Linked DNA regions of Homo sapiens. The protein of the gene in region 2 purifies or fractionates together with the protein of the main gene of each other region. This does not show direct contact. Each region holds a gene or a part of one and is shown on either strand. Other genes may lie near its edges.

Region 1 (5,445 bases), on a different chromosome or scaffold from region 2:
ACTACTCTGAGTGGTCAGTGATTTCACTGTAAGCTGAGTCACTTGTCATAAGTGACTCCATTATGAGACATTTATGATCATAAAACATAATTATATATCAGTGCATAATAGGCTATACCATCTAGGTTTGTGTAAGTGCACTCTAGGATGTTTACACGTGACAAAAATCACTTAACAACATATTTTCCAGAACACATCCCTGTCATTAAGCAATGCATGACTGTATTTTGAAGGGTTTACTAACTGATTAAATGTGGGCTAGGAAAGGAAGAGACGAAGATTATTTCATTTCTGCCTTGGTAACTGAAAGAATAGGGTTATTGTGAACTGAAATGTAGGTGACTATAGAAAAGCAGATTTGAGGGGGAAATTTGAGGAACTCAGTTTTGGAGTGTTAAGTTTCAAGATGCCTTTTAGACATCCAAGTAGATATGTATAGTAAGCAGTTGGTTATGTCTTGAGGTCGGGGCAGAGATCTGGACTAGACATATAAATTTGAGAGCCATCGACAAAAAGAAGATATTTAAAGACATAAGATCGAAGGTCTTACTTAGAAAATAGTTCACATAAAAAGGAGGTTTGGAGACTGAGTCCAAGGCACCCCAATATTAAGAAGTTAGCAAATTAAGAGAAACCTACAAAGGAGTCTTAGAAGAAGTGGCCAAAGAGGTGGGGGAAAACCATGGTTTGTATTAGTGATCTTGAAAAAGTAGTATTAATGGAAAGAAGGGAATGAAAGCTTGATTGAAATGGGTTTAAGAAGATAGGAGGAGGACGTGTAATCTCTTGAGGAGTTTTTCTACGAAAGGAAATAGAAATGTTTTAAGTAGGGGGGAAGTGAGGTCAAGAGAAAGCTTTTTAAAAAATAACATCATATTTGTATGCTGATGACAGTAATCTAGAAGAGAAAATTTTGTGTAGGAGAGAGGCCTGGAAAGAAGTCCTTAAGAAGGCAGGACTCTAATATGCAAGAGAAGGGGTTGCCCTTAGATAGAAATGTGCACGTCCTTCTGCAGACTTTGGAGGGAAGACAGAATATATGTGTACAGATTATTGTATGCAGTAGATACAGTAGTGTAAGCTTGTGGAAGTTCTCATCTGATTGCTCCTATTTGCTCGTTGAAATAGGAACCTAGGTAATTAATTAGCTGAGAATGAAGATGGAGAAGAAAGTGTTTGAGGTTTGAGGAGAGAGAATTATGAAACAGCCATCCAAGAGAATGGGAGAATAAATGAGCTAAGGAAATATGATTGCCAGATGTGGTTCACTTTGAGGTTTGCTGAGGTCATGAATTTGAAGCAAGAATAGATATTTCAGTAGATATTACTAATGCTTTGTCCAGATCCTCTTGGATCCCTTTCTAGTGTTGCTGTACATGTCCTGCCTTTGTTGGTTTTTGCTTCCAATAAACAGCATCTATGCCTCTTTTTTTGGTAAACTGCCCTCAGGCTATTGGAGCACCCTTTGCTCTTACTGTTGTAGTACCTGAGGTGGACCTTAACCAATAGTGATTCAGAAGTATGAAATTTTCATTATCCTTGCTTCAGAGACATGTTTTGAACTTTGACACGGCAGAGTTCCCCCATTACCTTTACCCCCACCTACACACTGGTGAGATCAGGCTGAAGCTACCCTCTAAGGGACTTTGTCTTAGATCACACCTTTGCTTAGCTTTCTCCCCTTTCTTGACCTGCTTCCCCAAATTTCTTATTAGTTCCCCAAACATTTCCTTAATAAGTCACTTGTATATAATTTTTTTTCTCATGATCTGTTTATTGGGAACCTAACCTAAAACAGTAATTATGACTGTATGTGTCTTTCTTCAGCTATGGCCAGTTATATCAGTGTAAGCAAAAAAAAAATGGATTTAACATGGATGGGAGTTTTGCCAAGCAAACACCATGAAGTGAGGAAAGGGCAAGTGAAGTATACTGAAGGTGTATTCAAGGTAGTGGTTATATGATTTGCTATCAAATTTAACCTAGTTAAGGAAAGATTTATTAGTCTGTTCTCATATTGCTAATAAAGACATACCCGAGACTGGGTAATTTATAAAGGAAAGAGGTTTAATGGACTCACAGTTCCACATGGCTGGGGAGTCCTCACAATCATGGCAGAAGACAAAGGAAAAGCAAAGGGATGTCTTACATGAAGTCAGGCAAGAGAGAATGTGTACAGGGGAACTCTCCATTATAAAACCATCAGATCTCATGAGACTTATTCACCATCATGAGAACAGCACAGGAAAGACCCACTGCCATTATTCAATTACCTCCTACCAGGTCTCACCCATGATACATGGGAATTGGGAATTATGGGAGCTACAATTCAAGATAAGATTTGGGTGGGGACACAGCCAAACCATATCATTCCACCCCTGACCCTTCCCAAACGTCATGTCCTCATATTTTAAAATGAATCATGCCTTCTGACAGTCCCCCAAAGTCTTATTTCAGCATTAACTCAAAAGTCCACCGTCCAAAGTCTCATCTGAGACAAGGTAAGTCCCTTCTGCCTATGAGCCTGTAAAATCAAAAGCAAGCTAGTTACTTCCTAGATACAATGGGGGTACAGGCATTAGGTAAATATACCTGTTCCAAATGAGAGAAATTGTCCAAAATAAAAGGGGCTACAGGCCCCATGCAAGTCCAAAATCCAGTGGGACAGTCTTAAAGTTCTAAAATGATATCCTTTGACTCCATGTTCACATCCAGGTCACAGTGATGCAAGAGGTGGGCTCCCACAGTCTTGGGCAAAGGATATGGTCGGGGGATATGAGGTGAATGGCAGTATGATCAATGGATGGTAGGTCAAGTATTGATTGAAGGATTGTTGGAATTGAGGCACTAGCAGGAGTGAGTGGAAAGGTAGGAGGTTAGAGGTAGAAATGTTTAGAAACTAGGATTATTCAGTGCTTTTACTGTTGATATTGCTAAAGTGTAGGGTGTAACTCCTAGAATTACTGGCTGAGATAGTGTCAAGGAAAATATCACTGGTGGAGAAAATTCAAGGAACTGATGGGCCTAAATGTTAAAAGGGACATCTGTGTAGATTTTGAAATCAGTAATTAAGACAGGAGTAGTGTTAATGAGAGTAATAGTGAATTATGCCAAGATCCTTAAGAAATGAGGAGAAATGATCTGAGAGTTAGTAGGTGACTGCAAGAAAAAGGGGTAGAGGGTGGCAGAGTCTCATGGCCTGAGATTCAAAGCTGAGGGAAGAATTTACACAGGAGGGAGAGCAAAGAGTCTGGAAGTAGCAATGAGTTTCAGGAAGGATACAGACTCCATCCAGGCTTACTAGAAGACTGATGTGGGAAAAACATCTACCACTTAAGAAGCCTACAAAGGAAACAGGATCCTCATGGAATATTCAGGTTTTAGTTAGAGCAAGGAGGTGAAGGGTCTATTCAGAGAAGATATTGAAGCTGTATGGAATTGTGAAAGACTGTGAGTTCCAGGGGCACAGTGGAAGGATATCAGGAGTTGAGGGGGTGGAGAAGATGTGGGAGAAAATAGGGAATGTGCAGAGCCTTATGGGAATTACAATGCAGTAAACAAGTATAAAAGGGGAATTTGGGACTTCTGGTATTGATGATATAAAGAGGGATAAAGAACACAATGAAACCAGTTCCGGTGGTCTCAAGGTAGTAGTGCTGTCAGTGATAGGAAATGGGAAGTTGTAGGTATGTATTGGGGCTGGGGAGGGACAGTCTTACACTAAGTTAAGTAGTCTGGACTCACTGTTTTTCTTATTTTTTTAGTGATGCCAACTTTAAAAGCCTTTGTCCTCTATCATGAATTGTACTTTCTACCTATTTATCATGTGGATAAAGTGCAACTGTATTTCCTTACCCTGTGTATATTCAGATATTCAAAATGTCTAATAATATATGAAATAGCAGCCCAAGTATGATTTTTTAAAAAAACTGTCACTAAACTGACTTCCTACAAATCAGAGTAGGATTTCATGACTGTGTGTTCATGTTCAAACTTCATGTTGAGTTTTGGTTGCCTTATTCTGTTTCTGTAGTCATGGTTCCAGAAGACACACCTCTAGAGGATGGGCAACCACTTCTAGGGAAGTCCCTAGCAAAGCACCTAGCATGGTGCTAGCTCTGTTACACTGTGATAACGGCAGGGTTTTTACCCTCTCCAGCTCTTTTGGCTGATGTTAAATTCTTCCTTCTCAGTAATGAGATTCTTGACCAGTCATTGATGACTCCATTGCACTTGTCAGGAGTCTTGTGTTTGACTTCATCTTTGATTCTGCTTTGCCGTCTCTCATTTTTCACTGTGGCCTATTGAATACATAGGATCTGAGCAACTTCTTACAAGAAACTCTGTCTCTTTGTTTCTCGTTTTCCAGCTTTGTACTTCTATGCCTCTTGGACCAAATACTCAGTGTTTCCATGGGCAAACACTGGGTCATTTGTCTTTTAATCTTCTTTTTTCCTGATCTCTTATCAACAGCAAACACATTTGAGATGCTGTTGGCATCAATATAAAAAGTTATTTAAATTTGTGGAAATCCAAAGGGTTTAGGAGGAATGCCCGTGAGTTCAAATTTGCCGGGCTGGTTGTTATCCTTCATCATTGCTCACTCAATTTTGTAAACCTTAATGAGCAAACCTGAAGGGGGCCAGCCCCTCCACACCTGTGGGTATTTCTAGTCAGTCTGGACAAGAGACTGAGAAAAGAAATAAGACACAGAGACAAAGTATATAGAAAGAAAAGTGGGCCCAGGGGACCGGCGCTCAGCATACGGAGGACCTTCACCAGCACCAGTCTCTGAGTTCCCTCAGTATTTATTAATTACTGTTTTCACTGTCTCAGCAAGAGCAATGTGGCAGGACAGCAGGGTGATAGTGGGGAGAAGGTCAGCAAGAAAACATGTGAGCAAAGGAATCTGTGTCACAAATAAGTTCAAGGGAAGGTACTATGCCTAGATGTGCACGTAGGCCAGATTTATGCTTTTCTCCACCCAAACATCTCAGTAGAGTAAAGAGTAACAGAGCAGCATTGCTGCCAACATGTCTCACCTCCCACCACAGGGTGGCTTTTCTCCTATCCCAGAATTAAACAAATGTACAATTGGGTTTTATACCGAGACATTCAGTTCCCAGGGGCAGGCAGGAGACAGTGGCCTTCCTGTATCTCCACTGCAAGAGGCTTTCCTCTTTTACTAATCCTCCTCAGCACAGACCCCCTACGGGTGTCGGGCTGGGGGACGGTCAGGTCTTTCCCATCTCACGGGGCCATATTTCAGACTATCACATGGGGAGAAACCTTGGACAATACCTGGCTTTCCAGGGCAGAGGTCCCTGCGGCTTTCCGCAGTGCATTGTGCCCCTGGTTTATCGAGACTGGAGAATGGTGATGACTTTTACCAAGCATACTGCCTGCCTGTAAACATTTTGTTAACAAGGCACATCTTGCACAGCC
Region 2 (4,782 bases):
ATACCAGCCTGGGCAACATGGTGAAACTGTCTCTACAAAAAATAGTGAGGGTTGGTGGTGTGTGCCTGTAGTCCCAGCTACTCAGGAAGGTGAGGTGGGAGGATTGCTGCAGCCTGGGAGGTTGAGGCTGCAGTGAGCCGAGATGACGCCACTGCCTGTACTCCAGCCTGGGCAAGAGTGAGACCCTGCCTCAAAAAACAAACAAACAAACAAACAAAAAAAACACAAAAAACCTGTACAGGCTGGCTGGCCCCCTGTGGTCCCTGCCTCCCTTCTCCAAAATGGTGCTTGAAAATCTACCAGAAGGAGGTTCAGCACTGGGGTACACATGCCCACAAACATGGGTCATTTAGCACCCTCTGGGCTGGTACATTGGGTAGGGAGACCCCCTTGGGCCAGTGATGCCAGTTACTACCATGGCTGTGGCTACCAGCCAGCATCTGCTGCATGCTTCTGGTGTGCTGGGCGTGGTGTGTGTCCTTGCCCACTGGCTTGCTTTTTTTTTTTTTTTTTTTTTTTGAGACAGAATTTCACTCTGTCCCCCCGGGGCTGGAGTGCAATGGTGTGATCTCCGCTCACGGCAACCGCTGCCTCCTGTGTTCAAGTGATTCTCCTGCCTTAGCCTCCCGAGTAGCTGGGATTACAGGCATGTGCTGCCATGCCCAGCTAATTTTTGTATTTTTAGTAGAGACGGAGTTTCACTGTGTCGGCCAGGCTGGTCTCGAACTCCCGACCTCAGGTGATCTGCCTGCCTAGGCCTCCCAAAGTGCTGGGATTACAGGTGTAAGACATAGCGCCTGGCCTACTGGCTCTTTTTTCTTTTGCTTTTGAGATGGAGTCTTGCTCTGTTGCCCAGGCTAGAGAGCAGTGGCACAATCTTGGCTCACTGCAAGCTCCGCCTCCCGGGTTCACGCCATTCTCCTGCCTCAGCCTCCCCAGTAGCTGGGACTACAGGTGCCCGCCACCACGCCAGGCTAATTTTTTGTATTTTTAGTAGAGACGGGGTTTCTCCGTGTTAGCCAGGATGGTCTCGATCTCCTGACCTCGTGATCCGCCCACCTCAGCCTCCCAAAGTGCTGGGATTACAGGCGTGAGCCACCGCGCCTGGCCGCCTACTGGCTCTAACAGCCCTCTGTGGGTCCCTTTCATTAATCTCACTTTACAGATGGTGAAACTGAGGCTCCCATTCCAGGCAACAGTGAAGGCATTCAGCATGGTTTTCTACCCTTTCTGGCAGCAGGAGCACTTTGAAGCTAGGCTGGGACTGTTCTACCTAGGATGAGACCTGCACCCTCCAGGGGACCAGCTCTCAGACCTGTGAGAGGAGGCGGTGACGTGGTAATCCCTTGAGATGGCTGACTTCATGTAAATCTGATGCCGTCCTCCTCTAAGTCTCAAAACTGTCCTCTGCTGAGCTTGGGGGCTGCCCCACACCTGGACCAGCTGCTTGGAGTGGACGTGGCCAGGACAGGACAGTCACACCAAGAAGGCCCTTGGAAGAGTGAAGCAAACCTGAGGCCGGGGAGGGAGAAGTCACCAGGCGCCAGAGCCACAGTGCCACCGTGCTGGGGGCGGGGGGTGAGGTAGAGAAGGCAGCAGAGAGGGCGGCGGCCTCTGCCCAAGTGCGAAGCCAGTGAAACAAACGACAATAGCTTCCTATGTGCCAGGCATGGCTGGAAGCCTCATGCCCACAGCAACCTTATGATGGGATTACTGTTATTTTACCTGGGTTACCAATGAGAGCTGAGGCTGAGTAACCTGCCCGAGGGCTCCAGGCTGGTCTCTGACCCCTGCAGCTGCCTCCAGGCTGGAGTAGGGGCCCACAGGACCCCACATGCTCAGGGTGGGCGCACCATCCCAACCACAGCAGCTGAGAAATGTCAGAACACTCCCCTCCCCGCTGCCCATGCTGGGAGTGGGGCCTGGGGTTTATTCTAGAATTTCAGGTTTTCAGCTCAGGGCTGAGGCCTCCTTCCCGCCTAGTCTGGGATGGCCTCCTGGAGATCTGGAGTCCAGCGTCCCCAGTTCCTGACCCAAAAGGGATGACGAAACACAAGCCGGCTGCTGTCTGTGAGTGGCCCTTGGTGTCTGGATGTTTAAGCATATGGGGGTCCTCTGGCTGAAGGCTTCTCTCCACTTACTGCACGGAGGCCCCAACCACCCTCAGGCAGGCATATGAATAGCATTTTAGATGTGAAGAAACTAAGATGCAGAGAGAGTGAGGCCTCAGGCCCTTCTGACCCCAGCTACCCAAGAGGAGGGCAGGGGTGGCGGCATGTAAACCCTGCCACAGGTGGGGCCTCTGCAGACACCACCTAGCCCCCTAACAATGCCCGGAGCCCGCTATGGGTCCCTCTCACCCCAAGCATTCCATGGCCAGGCTCCATCTGGATAGGAGGTAGGGGTCTATGATGGCTTTGGGGGAAGGGCAGGCAGGGCTCAGAGATAGCAGGCGAGGGCAGTTCCCAGAAAAGGCCATCGAGGAAAAAAGGTATCCCTGAGAGCTGGCTCAGAGGTTCTGCCCTCCAGAGCGCAAAAGTGAGGTCAAGGTACCGAGGGGTGTGGCAGTGCTGGGGCCAGGGACACAGCTGCACCCCAAGCCCCTTCCACATGCCAGGCAGGTCCCACATGATCCACAGAACCCCACAATCCTGCTAACGGGGTTTGACATTGTGGAGTTCTCAGAGCATGCGTGACTCGCCTGGAGCTATGGAACCAGCCCTCGGCAGAGCTGGGATTTGAACCAGGGTCTCACTCCAAGGAGCATGGCGCCCCCAAGCCACTGAGGCAGGAAGGGGTGGTGAGCCAAAAGTGACCCTGGGAAGCCCCAGACTCTGCCCATTCTCCCAGGATGTCCCATCTGTCTGGCAGGGTGTTCCTGGTTCCGACCTTCCCGGGGCAGCCCTAGTTGCGCAGGCTGTCAGGCCATTTCTGGAGCATGGCACAGCAGACAGGCATGGGCTGGGCTGGCAAGTTCCAGCCCCCGCGTGGTGTAGGGAAGCTAGCGCCTCTCCAACACACACTGTCTCCTCAGTCCAGCAGGACCTTGTGTGTGCATGGGCGGTTAAGACACCCATGGGCCAGGGACAGGATGGGGTGGTCGGTGCTCGGGGCTGACCCCTCCTCCCTTCGGCCGGCCAGTGCTGGCTGCAGGGGATGTGGAGACGACCTGATCTCAGCCTGGTGGGACGTGAGTGTCGGGGAGCCCCTGGTGAGGCTGCGGGACCGAGGATGCCGTGGGGACAAGGCTTTCAGGAATGGGGCTGTGAAGCAGGGGAGGTGGCAGCCAGCTGGGGCTGGTGATCTGAGGGTTATTATTTTTTGATGACGGGAGAGACTTGAACCTGTTTCAAGGCGCTGGGAAGGAGCCAGTAATGAGAGAGAGAGAGAGAGAGAGAGAGAGAGAGAGAGAGAGAGAGAGAGACAGAGAGAGACAGAAAGCAGGAGAGAGGCAAAAAATCACTAACTGGGAAGGGGAGAGGGAAGAGGCCCAAGGCCACCATCTGCTGGGTAAGCAAGGCCCGCGGCACCAGGAACCTGCAGGAGTCCTGTCGGGGCCAGCCTTCCTCTGAGGTGGAGGGTGGAGTGAGGTGGGCAGGGCGTCTGGGCGTGGAGAAGGTCTCCAGCCATCCCCATGGGCAGTGGGAAGCAGGTGCCCAAGACACACACTAGGAGGCGTGGGTGGCAAACACAGTGGGCCCCCACCGGGACCTTGGTTTGGCCAGGCAATGCCACGGCAACTGTCAGGAGCAGGGGCTGCTCAGAGGGGCTGCAGGGGTGTACTGCGAGGAGCAGGTGGGCAGTGCAGCGACGGGGGAGGAGGCTGGGCAGGGGGAGGGGCGAAGCCACCGGCTGGGGCCACTGTGCTGGGTCACTGAATCACTCAGATGCAGGCAGTGTTTGTCCAGGGCCTCTGGAGACCCCTGCCAAGCCCCTCTGGCTCCCCTGTGACCTCAGCCGCACATAGTGGGTTGAAGGAAGGAGTGGAGGGGATGGGACTCAGGGCAGGGGCCAGAGAAGGCTGCAGGCGTCCCCACTGAGAGCCACCACACAGCGCTGAGAGCCGGGAGCGTCACTCCACGGAAGTCTGGATGAGGCAGTGGAGTCGGGGTTGAATGTGGGGGCAGAAGCATGGCCCCGGGGGAGAGGTGCACCCCACCGCCCCCACTGACCCCTCCCTCAGAAGGGCACAGAGGTACTCTATGGTACTGGGGAAGTGGTGACACCACGAAGAACGTCACCCTGCTGTCACCAGAGCCACCAGGCCCCTCTGCACTGACTATCACAGGGCTGCTGTGCTCGGTGGGCTCAGAGGTGCCCACCTTTTAACCCTCCCGACCCCTCCTCCATGGGCACCCTCATACCCACGTTAGGGGCGAGGGGACGGAGGCACAGAGAGGGCAGGTCACAGCCCCAAAGGTGCATGGCGGCACAGCCCCAGAGTTCCCTCTCTCATGTTGGTGCTCAGTGACTATGGCTTCCAAAGCTGGTCTCAGAGCCAATGGTGAGAGGGTCTGGATCTGCCCCGCCCTGCCTGTTGTGACTGTGTGACCCCATGGACTGTCCTGCAGAGGGAGGAACCCTGTGACTGGGTCCATGCACCAAGCCTGTGTCGCCAGAGAGGGTCTTCCTGAGCCCTTAGCTTCATCCCAGAGGCAATGGAGACAGGAACAGAGGGTGGGCAACTTGCTCTTGCACCGCCCGGGGCAGCCCTGATGTTCAATCTTGGGAGTCCTCGTGTTCTCTGGGCCTTGGCATCTCCGGTGACAGCATGGGGAGGGG

The links.
Region 1: the proteins of RAI1 (region 2) and ACAD11 purify together in Homo sapiens (affinity purification with mass spectrometry, with the first as the bait; one large-scale study listed by BioGRID). This does not show direct contact.

What each region holds. Positions count from the first base shown.
Region 1 is NC_000003.12:132,648,981-132,654,425, reverse strand, and holds part of ACAD11 (acyl-CoA dehydrogenase family member 11), read left to right. Parts: intron 1-5,445. UniProt on the Homo sapiens protein: Acyl-CoA dehydrogenase, that exhibits maximal activity towards saturated C22-CoA.
Region 2 is NC_000017.11:17,798,823-17,803,604, reverse strand, and holds part of RAI1 (retinoic acid-induced protein 1), read right to left. Parts: intron 1-4,782. UniProt on the Homo sapiens protein: Transcriptional regulator of the circadian clock components: CLOCK, BMAL1, BMAL2, PER1/3, CRY1/2, NR1D1/2 and RORA/C. Positively regulates the transcriptional activity of CLOCK a core component of the circadian clock.